5 linked regions of the Homo sapiens genome follow. The protein of the gene in region 2 purifies or fractionates together with the protein of the main gene of each other region. This does not show direct contact. Each region holds a gene or a part of one and is shown on either strand. Other genes may lie near its edges.

Region 1 (3,519 bases), on a different chromosome or scaffold from region 2:
AGTAGGGTTGGGCGTTCTTAATATTCAACCTATGATACCTTTTCAAAGTGTGGAATTGTGGGGAGGCTTATACATTGGGTCTCTTTTAGTAAGAAATACTTCCTGGCCAGGCACGGTGTGCTGACACCTGTAATCCCAGCACTTTGGGAGCTGAGGTGGGCAGATCACTTTAGGCCAGGAATTTGAGACCAGCCTGGCCAACACAGTGAAACCCATCTCTACTAAAAATACAAAAAGTTAGCTGGGCGTGGTGGTGCGCACCTATAGTCCCAGCTACTTGGGAGGCTGAGGCAGGAGAATTGCTTGAACCCGTGGGTGGAGGTTGCAGTGAGCCAAGATCGGGCCACTGCACTCCAGCCTGGGCAACAGACGGAGACTCTGTCTCAAAAAAAAAGATAGAAATACTTTCTAGCAGGTTTTTTCTTATCCTCACTCTGATGAAATAATAGCTAGCCGTTGGTCAATGGTAGCTGCATTATCTCAATCTTCACAATCCTATGAGAACACATAGGTCCCGTTATCATTGCATCTTGATGTACAAATGGAGAAACACTTGGAGGTTTAAAAACATGCGTAAGTTCAGCCAGGCATGGTGGCTGACGCCTGTAATCCTAGCACTTTGGGAGGCCGAGGCGGGCAGATCACTTGAGGTCAGGGGTTCAAGACCGGCCTGGCCAACGTGGTGAAACACCATCTCTACTAAAAATACAAAAATTAGCTGGGCGTGGTAATGGGTGCCTGTAATCCCAGCTACTCGGGAGGCTAAGGCAAGAGAATTGCTTGAACCCGGGAGGCAGAGGTTGCAGTGAGCTGAGAGCACACCACTGCACTCCAGCCTGGGAGACAGAGTGAGACTCCGTCTCTAAATAAATAAATAAATAAAGCCTAAGTTCATACAGCAGAGTTGGGATTTGATTCTAGGACCACAGCTCTCAACCCGTATCGTGTTTCCTCCTCCTGTTAGCATGAAGGTATATGGTAAAAGATGGGAGCTTCCCGGCCGTGAGCGGCGGCTCACGCCTGTAATCCCAGCACTTTGGGAGGCCAAGGCGGGTGGATCACGAGGTCAGGAGTTCAAGACCAGCCTGGCCAACATGGAGAAACCCCATCTCTACTAAAAATACAAAAATTAGCCAGGTGTGATGGCACATAGCTGTAAACCCAGCTATTCAGGAGGCTGAGACAGGAGAATTGCTTGAACCCGGGAGGCAGAGGTTGCAGTGAGCCGAGATCACACCACTGCACTTCAGCCTAGGTGACAGAGCAAGACTCCTTCTCAAAAAAAAAAAAAAGGCGGAGCTTCCCACAGCCAGGTGCCTATTTTCCATCTAAATCAGGACTCTGAGACATTGTCTTAATATGGGGAATGGGATTGTGGTTGTTGTCCTGGGCAAACTTCCAGGATTTTTACTTGCTATGAACTAATGTGTTTTTTTTTTAACTGGTGGGGGTAATCCAAATGTAACCACTGTACTTTAAGGAGTCATTTGGGTCTCCAAGTATTACATGAATGTACTTTTTCCTTGCAGGTCAGACACATTCTATGTGAAAAACATGGCAAAATCATGGAAGCCATGGAAAAGTTAAAGTCTGGGATGAGATTCAATGAAGTGGCCGCACAGTATAGTGAAGATAAAGCCAGGCAAGGGGTATGTTGCTCTTATTATTTATAATTTTCTCTCAAGGTAAGAAAGCAAAGTAAAAATGACAAATAATAAAATAAGATAAAAATTCTCCATCCTCCACAGAAGAAACACAGAAGTAGGGATCATTCCTTTGTTCAACCATTGGTTGTAGCGATATTTTGGTTTAAAGATCTCAAAAGCAGAAATGTCCAACTTGTAAATAGTAGAATAAGGGTCATCTATGTCAAAACCTATGCATGACCAAACTTGCACGGCTAACTTCAAAGTCCAGCAGTGTTGAGAGTACTTATGTGTTCAGTCTAGTTAGACTTCTTCTACCTATTTGTCCTTATTGAGCCTATTCCTGTATTGCTCTTAGGAATATACCTCGTAACCTTAGCAAAATGTTGGGAAATTCTCTCAAGCTACAGTAGAACTGTTCCCTCTTCTGGGCCACTTGATATCACTTATCTTTTGGGTTTTTCAGGGTGACTTGGGTTGGATGACCAGAGGGTCCATGGTGGGACCATTTCAAGAAGCAGCATTTGCCTTGCCTGTAAGTGGGATGGATAAGCCTGTGTTTACAGACCCACCGGTTAAGACAAAATTTGGATATCATATTATTATGGTCGAAGGAAGAAAATAAAATCATATGAAAGACTGAATAAGTTTTATACATTTTGTTTCTTTAAAAGGTATTACATATTCTTTTGAGCTGGAGCTGCAAGGAAATACAAAAATTTTTAAAAAGAAAAGATATTGGATGCTCCTTGTATTCTGTGAAAGCTCTAAGTATGGGTTTGTAGGTGTAAGAGAGGGTGGGGCTAAGTGAATGTCAACTGTAGTAGGTATTCAGTCAGTCTTTCTCAAAGAGAAGTCAAGCAGACTCCCTTTAACCTGTATTCTCTTTCCTCCCAGAACTATATCTGACTCTCAGTCTGTCCCATAAATTAATTCAGAAACCATCTTCAGGGGAAGCAGATATCAACTCACACTATTCACACAACTGAAAATATTGGGCATCAAATAGATTAGTGTGTGAGAATCATAAAATAAGTTCCTAGACAACATTTGTTTTACATGTTAGTCAACTCTGATCTTCCAGGACAGGTGGTATTAGCTCCACTGTCTTAACATAGTACGTGGCACGTTATGCCTTTCAGTGTTAACTCCTTTCTTTTTAAATAAATGTTTATTGGAGGAAAAAAGCACTCAGTTGTTCCATGAGTTGTTTTGTACTAGACTAACCGAGTGCTGGTTAAAGGGAGGGATGTCAGCATAAAAATGTCATTCCCTCATCTTCAGTGTATGGGTTACATTAAGACTGTCCTTTCCAGGGCCAATGTTCTGTGCATCTAAATTTTTAAAATTTAAAATGCCATATTTATGACATATAAAAAAGTATAAAGATTACTAATATAAATACTATACTGCTTCAAAAATAAAACTTTGCCAACACAGCTATGTGATTCTTAACAGATTATTTTAACACACTGCCTTCTCTCCCTCAGCTGCATTTGATATTATACCCACTTATATAATGGGAACTTTACCTAGATACCTGACTTTCCCACTTGAGAAGAGTTTCTGAGCACCTCAGTAGGTTATGCCTCCATGAGATTTTCCCCACGGAGCAGATATGCCAGTGTATACAGAGAAGTTCAAATAGATATAAGATGAAACTATGGCTGGGCCCAGTGGTGTGCGCCTGTAGTCTTAGCTACTTGGGAGGCTGAGGCAGGAGGATCACTTGAGCCCAGGAGTTCTGGGCTGTAGTGTCCTATGCCAATCGGGTGTCAGCACTAAGTTCAGCATCAATACAGTGACCTCATCTGGGCACAGTGGCTCAGGCCTATCATCCCAGCATTTTAGGAGGCCAAGGTGGGAGGATCAC
Region 2 (3,519 bases):
CCCAAGGCATGATGAAAGGAGAGTAATAGCTCTCTAGCAACCTACTTGGAGTTGAGACCTATTCCTTTTCATCTGCCATTGCAAAGGCTTGATGAAGTGTGAGAATGGGGTTGGTAGGGAAGAGAGAGAATAGAGATAAATTTAGGAGGTCACATATGATATAGAGATGCTAGTTACTTTGTAGCATGGAGTAATGGAAGTAATGCTGGACTAGCAAGTCTAAGACATAGGTTCTAGTCCCAGCTGTAGCCTGTGAGCTGCAGGACCTGGGGAAGTTGCTGTGCTTCTCTGCAAAATTTGGAGAGGCAGCATAGGGTAGCAGCTAAAAAAGTGAGCTCTGGAACCAGACTGTTTGGGTTTCAGTTTTGGCTCAGTCATTTCCTGATGGTGTGACATTAGACAGGTTACTTTTCTTTCTCTGCCTTGATGGGATTGTAACTCTGGTGTAGTTGTGAGAAGTATAAAAGCTCTTAGAAATGGTACCTGGCCTTGGAAGTGCTGTGTAAATGTTAGCCATTATTACTGAAAGCAGTAAGTTATATCAGATTTATCTTAATAAGGATAAAAAAGATAGTAGGAGGAAGTGCTTTCAAAAGTGGAACATTGTAGACAAATGCAAAGTGTTTATGGTCTTGGTGTTACGGTAATTTGTTTCCTGGTGACTGAGCTAGTTTTTCAAGTATTCTATAATTCTGTCTGTCCATGTGTGGAAATAAATAGTGCAGTGAATACAAGCGTGGGTAGAGTCTGGGGCTAGACTGCCTGGGTTTGAGTCCCAGCTTCACCATTTACTTATTGTGCGAAGTTGGGCAAATAGTGTAACTTCTGTTTCTCAGTTTCCTCATATGTAAAAATGGGAATAATACTACTACCTGCATCTTGGACTGTTGGAGGATTCCATTAATATATATTTGTCAACAGCTTGGAGTCATGCCTGGCATGGCTTATTTGTGTTGGCATTACTGCTGTTTTTCTTGTGGTAGGTGTCTGCCTCCTTCCCCTACGGACATGCCCACACTTCTTCTCCACCCTTGGTCCTGCCTTATGTCTGATGGGCTGCTTTGCCCTAGATGTTGTGAACTAGAGAATTGTTAGCTCCTCAGTGGGTCACAGTTGGGGAAGATGCTGGTCTTGGACAGGGACTGGCTCCCTGCCGTTTGGGCCATATTGGTTGTGGGCTTGATCACTTTCCAGGACTCCCTGTAACCAAGTTCTTTTTTCTAGTCCCTCAGGGCCGGGAGACCGAGTGGCTCTTTGGCATGGATGAGGGCCGGAAACAGCTGGCGGCCAGTGCTGGCTTCAGGAGGTTGATTACAGTGGCCCTTCACCGAGGTCAGCAGTATGAAAGCATGGACCACATCCAAGCTGAGCTGTCGGCTAGAGTCATGGAGCTGGCCCCAGCTGGGATGCCCACCCAGCAGCAGGTAACAAAGCTTTCGTACGGCTTTCATGGGTCTCTGAAGTCATGTTAGCAGCCAGGGAGGCAGAGGGAGCCTTGGCAGGAGCTAGGACTAGAGTCTGTGACTCTTCATCTAATCCTGGAGGGGTATCAGCAGCTAAGGGTTAAATGGCAGGGAAACTGTCCTTTGCCCCAGGCAATGAGAGGAAAGTGAGCACAGTAGCGTCTGTGTCTGGGGGAGCCTCTCAGAGTCCATAGACATGGCAGGATGGAAATGCTCTACTCATTGCGGGCTTCAGTTCTTCCTAATTTGAGTTGCTCTGACTGTGGATTTCTCCTTCCACACTGGACTTTCTTGGTCATTTTGCTTCTTAGAACTATCATTATCTGAGGGTATAAATGGAAGAGGGCCAAAACAGCTCAGCACAGTTATCCAGGTATTCACATTGCTGGTCAGGTGTTTTACTGGGAAGGAAACCGAAGGTTTTTGCCTAAGTGGTGATATGGTATTATCAGTTAACACCAACTGTCTTGTGCTATCCTGGTCACCATGGGTAACGAACAAGTGATTTTACTAAAAGAACTTCATGATGAGGAGTTGATCCTTTTTTTTCTTTTTTGAGATAGGGTCTTGCTCTGTTGCCCAGGCTGGACTGGAGTTCAGTGGTGTGATCACGGCTCACTGCAGCCTCAGCCTCAACCTCCTGGGTTCAAACCATCCTCCCACCTCAGCCTTTGGTAGTAGCTGGGACTATAGGTGCAAGCCACCATACCTGGCTAGTTTTTTTTTTACATTTTTTGTAGAGACAGGGTCTCCCTATGTTGCCCAAGCTTTGATCCTTCTTGATAGGTGGGAAAGCAAAGGTATCTAGAGGCTTGGTGCAAATAGTAACAGATCTGAAAAAAAAGAACCCAGGCTCCTGGGTTCCTGGCCTGTGGTTTTGCCCACTAGGCTGACTCGTGTTTACAGATGAATGTAAGTTTGATTCTTCCTGGCCAACTTTGGGGTTGATGACCCCTATTTCAAGGAAGCCCAGATCCTCTGAGGAGCTTCATTTGTGGCCTCTCACCAGTGCCTGAGTCTGCAGGGTCAGGAGATATTGGTGATTATTAACTAGTCTTATAGGTCTTTAAAAAAAGAAATAAAGATAGGGGGAAGGAGTGGGAAAGTTTAGGGGGAAAGTATATTTTTCTCCTAAGGTTCAGAAAAGTGGGGGAAAAATAGATGAGAATAATCAGGGGAAAGGAATATCTCTCTAGATTTGGAGTGGTTGTTTCTCCCATGGATTTTGTTATCTTTATTCTTGTGTAGATTCCTTCTCATAATCACAGCCCCTTCCTGAGGGTTCCCTCTAGCTTTTGTTATCCTGGACTATTGAGAGTTCTTTTAGGGGTTACTGATGAGAAAAACCCCTAAAAGAACTTGGGGAGAATCAGCTGCATCTCACTAGTTGTTTGGGAGATCTTTATGTGTCCAGTTGATTTTCAAAAGATGAATTAAACCTTTGAGATCAGTTCAAAGGCTCCAGAAAAGTACTTTAATAGAATGGCAAATCTGTGGAGTAGTTGTTGTCTAGAACCGTGGTATGGGGATATATACACACAAAAGGGAAGGGGTTATAATTTCTCTTATTTCTTAAATGAGCTGCTGTTTTGACCACATCTCTGGTTGTACCTTCAGGTCCCCTTTCTGTCTGTGGGTGGGGACATTGGGGTCCGGACCGTTCAGCACCAAGACTGCAGCCCCTTGAGCGGTGACTATGTCATTGAGGATGTGCAAGGGGATGACAAGCGATACTTCCGTCGACTGATCTTCCTCAGCAACAGGAATGTGGTGCAGTCCGAAGCCAGGTTGCTGAAGGATGTGTCTCACAAAGGTGAGGTGTCATAGGCACAGTGGTGGGACCCAAGTGGCCGTGGCATGGACTAGATTTCTTGGGAGCTTGGCCGAGATGTAGGATGGACCTGGGTGTCTGTAGGTTCTTAACCATCTGGACTCTTAGGGTGTGAATAGCTATAAGCAGAGTACATTCTGTTCTTGAGCAGAGCCTGGCTCTGAAGTGATAGGGGACGTGAGTAGTGAAACCAAATACAGTGATAATCACATTAATGTCTTCGGT
Region 3 (3,519 bases), on a different chromosome or scaffold from region 2:
ACCTGAATAACCATCTAAGAAGGTATACCTTACTCACCCAGCAGATGTCTGTAGTGCCTGCCCTGCTCAAGACCCTGGGGCAGGAAAGAGCCTTGGTGCTCCATAATAGGCCTGTCCATTTCTCAAGAGTAGTGGTGTGAGTTGGCTGGGTTCTTCTCCTCTTAGGTTATGCAAGTCGTCCGAGAGCAAATCACTCGAGCTTTGCCCTCCAAACCCAACTCTTTGGATCAGTTCAAGAGCAAATTGCGTAGCCTGAGTTACTCTGAGATTCTACGACTGCGCCAGTCTGAGAGGATGAGTCAGGATGACTTCCAGTCCCCGCCAATTGTGTAAGTTCCATCTCAGGGGAGGCTGGCGGGGGAGGTGGCTGCCAGCTCTGCTTTCCTTCCAGAGCTCCACTGTCCCCATGACCTTCCGCTCACTCCAGTGTGTGTCCACCCCAGGGAGCTGAGGGAGAAGATCCAGCCCGAGATCCTTGAGCTGATCAAGCAGCAGCGCCTGAACCGGCTCTGTGAGGGCAGCAGCTTCCGAAAGATTGGGAACCGCCGAAGGCAAGGTGAGAGGAGACGGGGCAATCCTTGGTGCCGGGAAGAGCCTGCCTGGATGGCCCCTTTTGTGCCCAGGCCTTTCCCAGTACTGTCGTTGCTCACCTGTTTGGCTTCCCTTGTGTTCCAGAACGGTTCTGGTACTGCCGGTTGGCACTGAACCACAAGGTCCTTCACTATGGTGACTTGGATGACAACCCACAAGGGGAGGTGACATTTGAATCCCTGCAGGAGAAAAGTAGGTTCATTTCTCTGTTGATGTGTCATGGTTGCTGGACTTGTCAGGAGACAGGAGTTCTAGTCCAGCTGTTTGTAGCTGATCATCTGGGCTTGTACCTGTTACCTCTCTGGACCTGTTTCCTTATCTGTCAGCGATTTCCTCTACCTGGCCTACTCGGTGGGGTGGTTTGGAGAAACAATGAGTTCACAGGTGTGAATGTATTGTGTAGACTGTAAAGGGTGGTACATGACTAAGTCGAAAGGCAGTAGTTAAGAGGAGAAGCTGTGAAGCCAGACTGCCCACATTCAAATCCTGGCTTTGCTCCTAATTAACTTGAATTCTAATTAATTGCAAGTTCTCCCCTCTGCCTTGGTTTCTTCTCCTGTAAAGTGGGAATAATAGCCACACTTTCCTCCTAAGAGGATTGCATGAGTAATGTATGCAAAGCACTTAGAAGAGTGGTTGGCAGGTAGTCAGCATAACTGTTAGCAGCTGCCACTGCTGTTGGCGATGATGGCATCATCATCGCCATTATTGTGAAGGAGAGGGGAAGGGAGTCACCAAGGTCCCGTTCCTTGGGGATATAAATCCAAGAGCCCTGAAGTGACCCTCAGTTAGCTTTGACACAGCCTCACTGGGCTGTGGTCTACAGGAGTGACCAAGACGGAGGGAACAGTACAAGGCCATCCTCCCCACCACCCTCACTGAGCTCATACAGCAGCCCTTGGAGTTTGGGGCTGAGGCTTCCTATGCATCTGCCCCAGTACCTCCCTTCCAGCACTGATGTAGGCACTGACCAGCTTGCAGCATGAACTTCCAGAGACTAATTCCCATCATTTATCAGTTCCTGTTGCAGACATTAAGGCCATTGTCACTGGGAAAGATTGTCCCCACATGAAAGAGAAAAGTGCTCTGAAACAGAACAAGGTGAGTAGAGAGGCCAGTTTGAGTAGCTGGCCCAGTGATACTTGGAGAGTGCCATTGGTGGTGGTTTTTTCCAGGTGCATTCTTGGCATCTTCCCCTCTCTATTCCTGAATGTTTTATTAAGAATTTTGAACATACACAAAAATAGATGGAACCTCTGTATACACATCACCCAGACTCAGCAACCATGGCCAGTTCTGCCCATCCACTTGTTTCTCTCCTTTATCGCTTTGAAGAAAGTCCCAAGTATCACACTGTTTCATCTGTAAATATTTAGTGTACATCGTATAGTGTATAACATTGCCACCAGTCCATTAGCACACATAACAGGAAATGAAAGTAGTTATTTCAGATCAAATATTCCACTGATGGTGACTTTCTACCAATTGTCTTATAAATGTCATAATTTCTCTACAGATATATAAATGTTTATATGGATACACACACACACACACACACACACACACACACACACACACACACCCCCATACCCATCTTGTCTAAACCAGAGTCTAAGACTGGTCTTTTAAGTTTCTTAATTCATAAGTTCCCCCGCCCCCCCATCCCCCACCATCTTTTCCTTTGCAGTTTATTAGCTGAAGAACCAGATTGCTTGTTTGGTAGTTTCCTAGCATCTGAATTTTGCTGATTGTTTCCCCGTGGTACAGTTTAACTTGTTCCTCTGTCCCAGATCTGTACATTGGAAGAGGGATCTAGAGGTTTGATCCAGTTCAGGTTTAACTTTTTTCCTGGCCAGTGTCATCAGTGGTATTATGTTCTATCAAGAGGCACATAACGTCTGGTGGTCTCTCCTTTTGTGATAATTAGCAGACTGTTGAAGCTCAGTGCCTCATTCCATCAGTCAACTAAGGTTTGCAAACTCATGATATTTTGATGCAGTCATTGCTTTTCATTTATGAGCTGAACCATGAAACTTGCCCTTATCTACTATTGGTTTCCCAGTGGTACAGTTTATATAGGAAACGAGAATAAATGCTGATTCTTCTTTTATGTACTTACTTTCAAAATAATGAGTTAGTTCCTTGGTATCATGCAACAGTGACCAATTTTGTGTGTGTGTGTGTTTTGTTTTGTTTTTTAATTGTTAAGACATTCCTATGCCAAATACAGCACGATAGAAGTTGTTAGTCATCTTGGTAATATAAAAACTTTTAGGATAACTTACAGTCATGGATCGTGACCTTCCAGGGTTCTGAGTGTTGAAAATGACTTTTTTCCAATCTTAAAAATATCACAACATCTTTGATGTGACTTGGGCAGGGAGTGGGTAAGTTAAGGTTGATTTATGCTGGGCCTCATCTCCAGCCACACTTGTGGCCGCCTAGGAGCATTGATGACATTCATCTGAATCAGCATGTTTGGTGATGATGCCGAGTCACTAGGACTTTGGCCAAGATCTTGATGTGCAGACCCCAGGCTGTTCCATCGCTCTAATTTAAACCCTTTCTCCTTCAGGAGGTGTTGGAATTGGCCTTCTCCATCCTGTATGACCCTGATGAGACCTTAAACTTCATCGCACCTAATAAATATGAGGTGAGCAGTGTGGCGCTGCCTTAGACAACAGAGCTATTTCTGTAACTCTTCAGTTGGTGGCAGGAATGAGCAAAACAGGAAAGTCCCCTGTGGTGGGTGGCTGCAGTGTATATTGAAGCCTAGGAAGGCTTTGAGAAGAAGGTGGCATTTCAATAGGATGGGAATGTCTCAAAGGAGGAGCTGTGGTTGGGGGGGCACCCAGATGAAGCAGCAGGTATCATTACATAATGCTGGACCTGAGGTTCCTCCAGGCGCATTGGGTGGCTGCCAAGGAT
Region 4 (3,519 bases), about 140 Mb from region 2:
GACATTGAGTCGGGCAGATTGCTTGAGCTCAGGAGTTCGTGACCAGCCTGGGCAACATGGTGAAACCCCGTCTCTACAAAAAACGAAAAACAACAACAGCAAAAGCCAAAAATTAGCCGTGCCTGTAGTCCCAGCTACTCAGAAGGCTGAGGTGGGAGGATCACTTGAGTCCAGGAGATTGAGGCTGCAGTGAGCTGGGATAGCACCATTGCACTCCAGCCTGGATGATAGAGCAACACTCTGTCTCAAAAAAAAAAAAAAAAAAAAGAATAGAACAACGAATATTCATGTATCCACCATCTATATTGAATAGTTAATTTCATTTATATATATATATATATATATATATATATATATATATATATATATATTTATTTATTTATTGAGACGGAGTCCGGCTCTGTCACCCAGGTTGCAGTACAGTGTTGCGATCTTGGCTCACGGCAGCCTCCACCTCCTGAGTTCAAGTGATTCTCTTGCCTCAGCGTCCTGAGTAGCTGGTATTATAGATGTGTGCCACTGTGCCTGCCAAATTTTTGTATTTTTAGTAGAGACGGGGTTTCACCATGTAGGCCAGGCTGGTCTCGAACTCCTGACCTCAAGTGATCTGCCAGCCTCAGCCTTCCAAAGTGCTGGGATTACAGGCGGGAGCCACTGCTCCTGGCAGACACTGACTATATATTTAACTATATATTTTTGGCTGAATCATTGTAAATTGCAATAAACCATGATGCTTTACCCCTAAATACTTCAGCTTGTACCCTTCCCAAAAAAAGGACATTTTCTTGCATAATCACTTATCCCACCTAACAAAATAAGGGCTAATTCCCTACGATCATCTGAAACCCAGTCTAGTAGAGGTTTACAAAGTGCAGATGCCAAAGACTAACTCAGAAGGTCTGAGGGTGGAAATTAGAATGTTGTCTTTTTCAGAAGCTTCACAGGGTTGGAGCACAGGCAGAATGAGAAACTGCTTTAGATTAGGAGTTCTTTTAGGAGAGAGTTGATGTCTCATACCTGCTTTAGCCACCTTAGTGCTTAGTACAGGTTGAGTATCCCTTATCTGAAATGCTTGAGACTAGAAGTATTTCAGATTTCAGATTTTTTCAGATTTTGGAATATTTGCAGAATGCATAATGGTCGAGCATCCCTAATCCGAAAATTCAAAATGTTCCAATGAGCGTTTCCTTTGAGCATCATGTTAGCACTCAGAAAGTTTCAGATTTTGGAGCCTTTTGGATTTTGGGTGCTCAACCTGCATAAGGAACATAATAGGAACTTGATACCTTTCAGTCTCCCTCCTCCCCCAAATTATTACAACATCTTCATAGTGCTAGGCTTCCATTTGTTTTTGTTTTTGTTTTTGTTTTTGTTTTTTCCTGGAGACAGGGTCTCACTTTGTTGCCCAGGCTGGAGTGCAGTGGCACAATCTCAACCTCCCAGGCTCAAGTGATTCTCCCACGTTAGCTTCCTAAATAGCTTGGACTACAGGCGACCACCACCATGTCTGGGTAATTAAAAAATTTTTTTTTTGTAGAGACAGGGTCTTGCTATGTTGCTCAGGCTGGTCTCGAAGTCCTGGGCTTAAGTAATCCTCTCACCTCAGCCTCCCAAAGTGGTGGGATGACAGGCGTGAGCCTCTGTGCCTGGCATGTTTGGTCTCAACTTTGTGATTAAAACCTGAAATGTTTCCTAGTTGTACCTTTACCTTTTGGTGCTTGAATTTTGTTAAAGATCAGTATTTCTGGGCATTTAAAGAGATTTGTTAATTTTTTAAATGCTTTTGCTAAGAGTCTCTTTTTGCCGTAGGACCTTAGAGCTTTTGGTTGTAACGAGACAGGGCAGGCTGGAAGTTAGTAAATGTTTCCCTTATTGACAACCCCAACTTTTCTCTTATTGTAGTTATCCATCTTGGTGCATCCTGACAAAAATCAAGATGATGCTGACAGAGCACAAAAGGCTTTTGAAGGTATTTGTAAATTTACCTGCTTCTGAGTATTAGATTGTGAATGGCAGGGCCTAACTGTTCCTTGTCCTAGATCAAGCAAAGACTGTTATAGTTTTGTCTTCTGGTCACCAAGAAGCTGTGGTTTTCAGTAGAGCAGTTGCCATTTCAAAGCAGAATGTTGTTGTTTAAGAAGTAGACCTTAACTTTGCTTTGTTAAAACTTTTATATGCCAACAAAGACTGTTATTGCATAGGATCATTTTTTTTCTTTGAACATAAAGAATTTTATCACTGAATTAAATCCAGATGTAGTGTATTTAGCCTTGAGTATATATTTAATTTTTTCCAAGGCTCTTAAGGAAAGTCATTGCTATAGTTGAATGTTTTTTTTAACTTAGTTTAACGACAGTAAATAATTAAAGTAGGGAATGCTTTAGAGAGCACAAGTCCATTTACACTGCCTGAGTATAGTTCAGACTTTCAGAGGGTGTTTGCAGAAACAGTTAATTTCAATGTTTTGCATTAGCTGTGGACAAAGCTTACAAGTTGCTACTGGATCAGGAGCAAAAGAAGAGGGCCCTGGATGTAATTCAGGCAGGAAAAGAATACGTGGAACACACTGTAAGTATTTATAGTGCTGCTGTGTTTACAGGAAGTATCAGCAAGCCTTGGGCACCTTGTAGAAGGGTACATATGAACATAGTAATGCCTACTGGCACAACCTGTGGCTACTTCTGTGCTCTCTACCACTTTGCTGTGGTGGTCATGAATAGTGTGTGCCTGAAGCTGTAATTCACCCCTAAGAGAAGAACTCAGATGAGGAGTAGCTGGTACACTGCTCCTACCTCTTTCCCTACCAGTCCTGTGTTGGGGAGAAAGGGTTGTTCTCTCCCTCTCATCACATATTGCCACTTACCCCATTCTTAGAGTGGAAACGTGGAGCAGCCTGTGACTCTTGACTCTTGATTTTTATTCTTGTCCCTGTGAAGGGTTTGCAACAAGGCTTGGCAAAGGCTAGCAAGAGGATAGGCGTAAACTTTTTTTAAAATAGGAGGAGGTTTATGTCCATCTTAATAACAGAGTTGGGAAGAACTCAGTTGAAGGAAACTGAGTTGTAGCTGGTGTTATTTTTGTTTGCTCTTGAGGGCATACATAAGTCTCCAATGTGGTGGGAAATGTCAGTATGGCTTTCCCAAGGTAAGAAAGGTCTTTTAACTTTTTACTTGCTGGGGCAAGAATCTTGAGGTCATTTGTAAGAGCTGCTTCAATTGTGATTGGATGACTTTTCACATGAAGAGCTTTGAAATCTGAGACAACTTTATAACCATAATAATGAATCCAGTTTCGGTGAGGAAAATGGATAAGAAGAGGAGACAAAGGGCCCATAACTATATCCTGCGGGTCATGTGTTGGAAATGGCACTTGTAGGCCCTATCCTGGTAGAAATAGGGAAAGTGCCTGACAGTTTCTCCTTAAATCATTGTGGCTTCGTATGTCTTTCACCTGTAAGAAAGTCATCCTTAGGCTTCCTGACCACAGGGTGGCAGTAGGGCCTTTCTGAGCTTAGAGGGT
Region 5 (3,519 bases), on a different chromosome or scaffold from region 2:
AGGTGGGACGATCACCTAAGGTCAAGAGTTCGAGACCAGCCTGGCCAACATGGCTAAGCCCCATCTCTACTAAAAATACAACAATTAGCTGGGTGTGGTGGCACATACCTGTAGTCCCAGCTACATGGGAGGCTGAGGCAGGAGAATCGTTTGAACCCAGGAGGTGGAGGTTGCAGTGAGCCGAGATTATGCCACTGCACTCCAGCCTGGGTGACAGAGTGAGACTCCATCTCAAAAAAATAAATAAATAAATAAATAAATAAATTTCCTATGGTAAAGGTCTCCATAAAGTTAAAAAAGAAGAAGAAGAAAGAAGGAAGAAGAAGAAGAGGAAGAGGAGGAGGAAGAAGAGGAATAAAAAGAAGAAGAAGAAGGAGGAGGAGGAGGAAGAGGAGGACTGGCATAAAATATTTGAAACACATTTGTTAGATAATGGATTTGTATGCATAAAGCTCCTCAAAGCAATAACAAAGGGCATCCCCCCACAAAAAAATGAATAAAGAGTATAAGTGGGTAATCCACAAAAGTGAAAATACAAATTACCAACAACAGAAGTGCTTAATTTCATAAATAATGAGGGGAAAGTAAGTTCACAATGTACCATCTTTTTAACTATCAGAGTGGCAAAAATCAAAGAATGGTAATACTCAGCTCTGATGAGGATATTACTGTGAATTACTATGCCCTTTTGGAAAGGAATCTAGACTTACATTAAAATTAAAACTCTAGGCTGGTCGTGGTGGCTGTAATCCCAGCACTTTGGGAGGCCGAGGCGGGCAGATCACAAGGTCAGGAGTTCAAGACCAGCCTGACCAACATGGTGAAACCCCATCTCTACTAAAAATACAAAAAAAATTAGCTAGGCGTGGTGGCGCACACCTATAATCCCAGCTAGTTGGGAGGCTGAGGCAGGAGAATCACTTGAACCCGGGAGGCGGAGGTTGCAATGAGCTGAGGTTGGGCCACTGCACTCCAGCCTGGGCGACAGGGCGAGACTCCATCTCAAAAATAAATGAATAAATAAATAAATAAATAAATAAATAAATAAATAAAAATAAAAACTCTATATCCTTTGTCTCAGCAATTTTACTTCTAAGAAATACTTTAGAGATATTAAAGTTCTAACATGTAAAAAATATTCAAGTACTAACTTGTAAAACATAGAAAATCAAGGATGATTATTACATTATTTGTAGAAAAGTGGTTAAAAAACTGTAAAATCTGTCAATAAGGGAGAGCTAACTGAACTGTGGAACATCTATATCATGGAGTATCATATAGCTGTTGAAGGAAATGAATTACACCTACTGAGATGGGAGGAACTTCCATGATGTATTAGTAAGTGAAGAAAACAAGCTACAAGGAATATCTGCTGTGTGATGGGTGGCATTTTTAAAAAATGACAAAAATCTTATGTATGTATGTACGCATGTATACATACTGATCCACTTGAAGGAAACAAAAAGGGGAGAATGAGCTTTTTTAAAGGCTAATTATTTGGAAAATACAGTAACAACTGGAAGGGTGCAATGTAATTTTCTGTCTGTGAAATCAGTTAAATATATTAAAATGGAATGAAAACATTACTCTTATTTTAGGATAGGATTGCAAACAATTTTTACTGTAGTAAAAATTTTGTTAGTATTGTAGTGTTAAGAAAAAGAAAGGAGCATTGTGTTAATGCCTGAAAGAAGAGACTCCTCCATTTCCAGACCTGTGATCTTGGGAAATTTTTTTACCTGTATCTGAGCAATATTTTGTTACATTGTGGATATAATGAAAACTTGTACAGTTAAATAGAAGTTCAGAGATCACCTAATTCCCCTGCTTCTTTGCATACAGATCAGAAAACTGAGGCCTATGGAGGTAAAGGAATTTGCCCGTGATCCTATAACTAATTATCAGCACACATGAACTAAAGTTCAAGTCTCCAGATTCCTACTTTAGTGTTCTTTCCCCCTGCAGTGACACCCTCAAAATTAGCTCAGAACTGAGATGGGGCAACTTGGGGCCTGTACACACGGGAGTTAAAATATTTCTCCGAAGCTTACACAAGGCCATACCTTTCTCAAGTCCTTTTGAAATGAAAATAAGGATACTTCTTCTAACAGAAAAAGCTGTCATAAAGCAACTGAGTGTCTGGCTTAATCAATGGCAGCTTCTATTAGTAGTTTCAAGAAAATGTTCTAATAAAATTTAACATAATATTCAGTTACTATCCTCCACACCTAATTTACACTGTATCTGAACCTGACTTCTCTCAAAACCCCCTTGAATTGGACAGATCCTCCTCTTCTATGTATTTTTATGGAGCTCTGAAGTTCTACCTTGGAGTATGTGTTTTCGCACCATTTGTCATTGCTATTACCCTTTAAGTGCCAAGAAAGTATGAACAGCCTGTCTTGTCACTATAACCAAGACACCTACAGTGATGCTTGCTTTATAGGTTGTGAACATTATTTGTTTAATGAATTATTAGTCCCTATACGGCCACTTACTGCACTCCCAATAAATCAGACGTTGCTCTTTGCTTTTCTCTCAGTGGACTCTCTTCACCACCAATTCAATGGTGTCAAAATACCAAAGAACAAGAATTCACTCCCACTCTTTCCTTACATTATGTCAAGCAATAGGATTAACATGCCAAGAATTATTGGGCACACAAAATAAACGTCTGTGGTTGATGAGAATGATAACGAAGTAGTTGTATATTATTATCAAGTACTCTTTCCTAAGAGTTATGTCATTGTTGTAATAATTATTAACAACAGTAACTAATACCATTTATTTAGTGTTACATGGAAAGTTCAAGTCTATCACCTCTTTTAATCCTCACAATAACCCTGTAACATTTTACCATGAGGAAACTGAAGGTCAGAATTATTAAGTACTTTGCTATCACGTGGCACAGCCAAAATTTAACTTGGGATTACTGACTTCTCGGTTAGCATTCTTAAACATTAGGGTTAGCTACTTCCATCAGAGACATAAAATATACATGTTATAAGCATTTGTGAGCAATTACAATGGCCCCACTACTCTTTGTATTTGAAAAAGTGGAAATTCGAAATAGCCATTTGTTTTCTCCAGAGTCACTAGGTGTTTCATTAAGTTACAGTGGACTGTAAATACTTAAGTTTTTTTAAAGCAACATGATAATATTTTCACCATGAGAAGCAAAGTGGGTTTTTTTTCCACAAGGGAAATTTTGGGTATAATCTAATGCAAAACTGCAGCAAAATCTCACCCACAAAGGCTGCCATCTGAGCTGCTGTTCTTCCCACAGAGTTGACAACATCTGTCTCAGCACCAGCTTCTAACATTACCCATGTGATGTCTTTATTACCTAGAGTTTTAAAGGGAACACATTTGTTAATGTTAAGGAGGACACAATTTAAACATCCCTTTCTAAACTCTCTATACCCTTTATTCCCCCAGTTAGTTTTAGGTTTCTGTCATGTGGATATTTTCATTCTTTTAAAACATGAATCCTAACTACAGTAAAGAATAAAATGCTAT

The links.
Region 1: the proteins of METTL13 (region 2) and PIN4 fractionate together in Homo sapiens (co-fractionation; one large-scale study listed by BioGRID). This does not show direct contact.
Region 3: the proteins of METTL13 (region 2) and ELMO2 fractionate together in Homo sapiens (co-fractionation; one large-scale study listed by BioGRID). This does not show direct contact.
Region 4: the proteins of METTL13 (region 2) and DNAJC8 fractionate together in Homo sapiens (co-fractionation; one large-scale study listed by BioGRID). This does not show direct contact.
Region 5: the proteins of METTL13 (region 2) and ANKMY2 fractionate together in Homo sapiens (co-fractionation; one large-scale study listed by BioGRID). This does not show direct contact.

The regions. Positions count from the first base shown.
Region 1 is NC_000023.11:72,195,256-72,198,774, forward strand, and holds the end of PIN4 (peptidyl-prolyl cis-trans isomerase NIMA-interacting 4), read left to right. Parts: intron 1-1,529; coding exon 1,530-1,649; intron 1,650-2,112; coding exon 2,113-2,271; 3' UTR 2,272-3,085; downstream 3,086-3,519.
Region 2 is NC_000001.11:171,784,655-171,788,173, forward strand, and holds part of METTL13 (eEF1A lysine and N-terminal methyltransferase), read left to right. Parts: intron 1-1,224; coding exon 1,225-1,424; intron 1,425-3,080; coding exon 3,081-3,276; intron 3,277-3,519. UniProt on the Homo sapiens protein: Dual methyltransferase that catalyzes methylation of elongation factor 1-alpha (EEF1A1 and EEF1A2) at two different positions, and is therefore involved in the regulation of mRNA translation.
Region 3 is NC_000020.11:46,368,616-46,372,134, reverse strand, and holds part of ELMO2 (engulfment and cell motility protein 2), read left to right. Parts: intron 1-165; coding exon 166-329; intron 330-443; coding exon 444-556; intron 557-675; coding exon 676-783; intron 784-1,609; coding exon 1,610-1,692; intron 1,693-3,166; coding exon 3,167-3,244; intron 3,245-3,519. UniProt on the Homo sapiens protein: Involved in cytoskeletal rearrangements required for phagocytosis of apoptotic cells and cell motility. Acts in association with DOCK1 and CRK. Was initially proposed to be required in complex with DOCK1 to activate Rac Rho small GTPases.
Region 4 is NC_000001.11:28,209,021-28,212,539, reverse strand, and holds part of DNAJC8 (dnaJ homolog subfamily C member 8), read left to right. Parts: intron 1-1,902; coding exon 1,903-1,969; intron 1,970-2,473; coding exon 2,474-2,568; intron 2,569-3,519. UniProt on the Homo sapiens protein: Suppresses polyglutamine (polyQ) aggregation of ATXN3 in neuronal cells.
Region 5 is NC_000007.14:16,621,736-16,625,254, forward strand, and holds part of ANKMY2 (ankyrin repeat and MYND domain-containing protein 2), read right to left. Parts: intron 3,347-3,519; coding exon 3,248-3,346; intron 1-3,247. UniProt on the Homo sapiens protein: May be involved in the trafficking of signaling proteins to the cilia.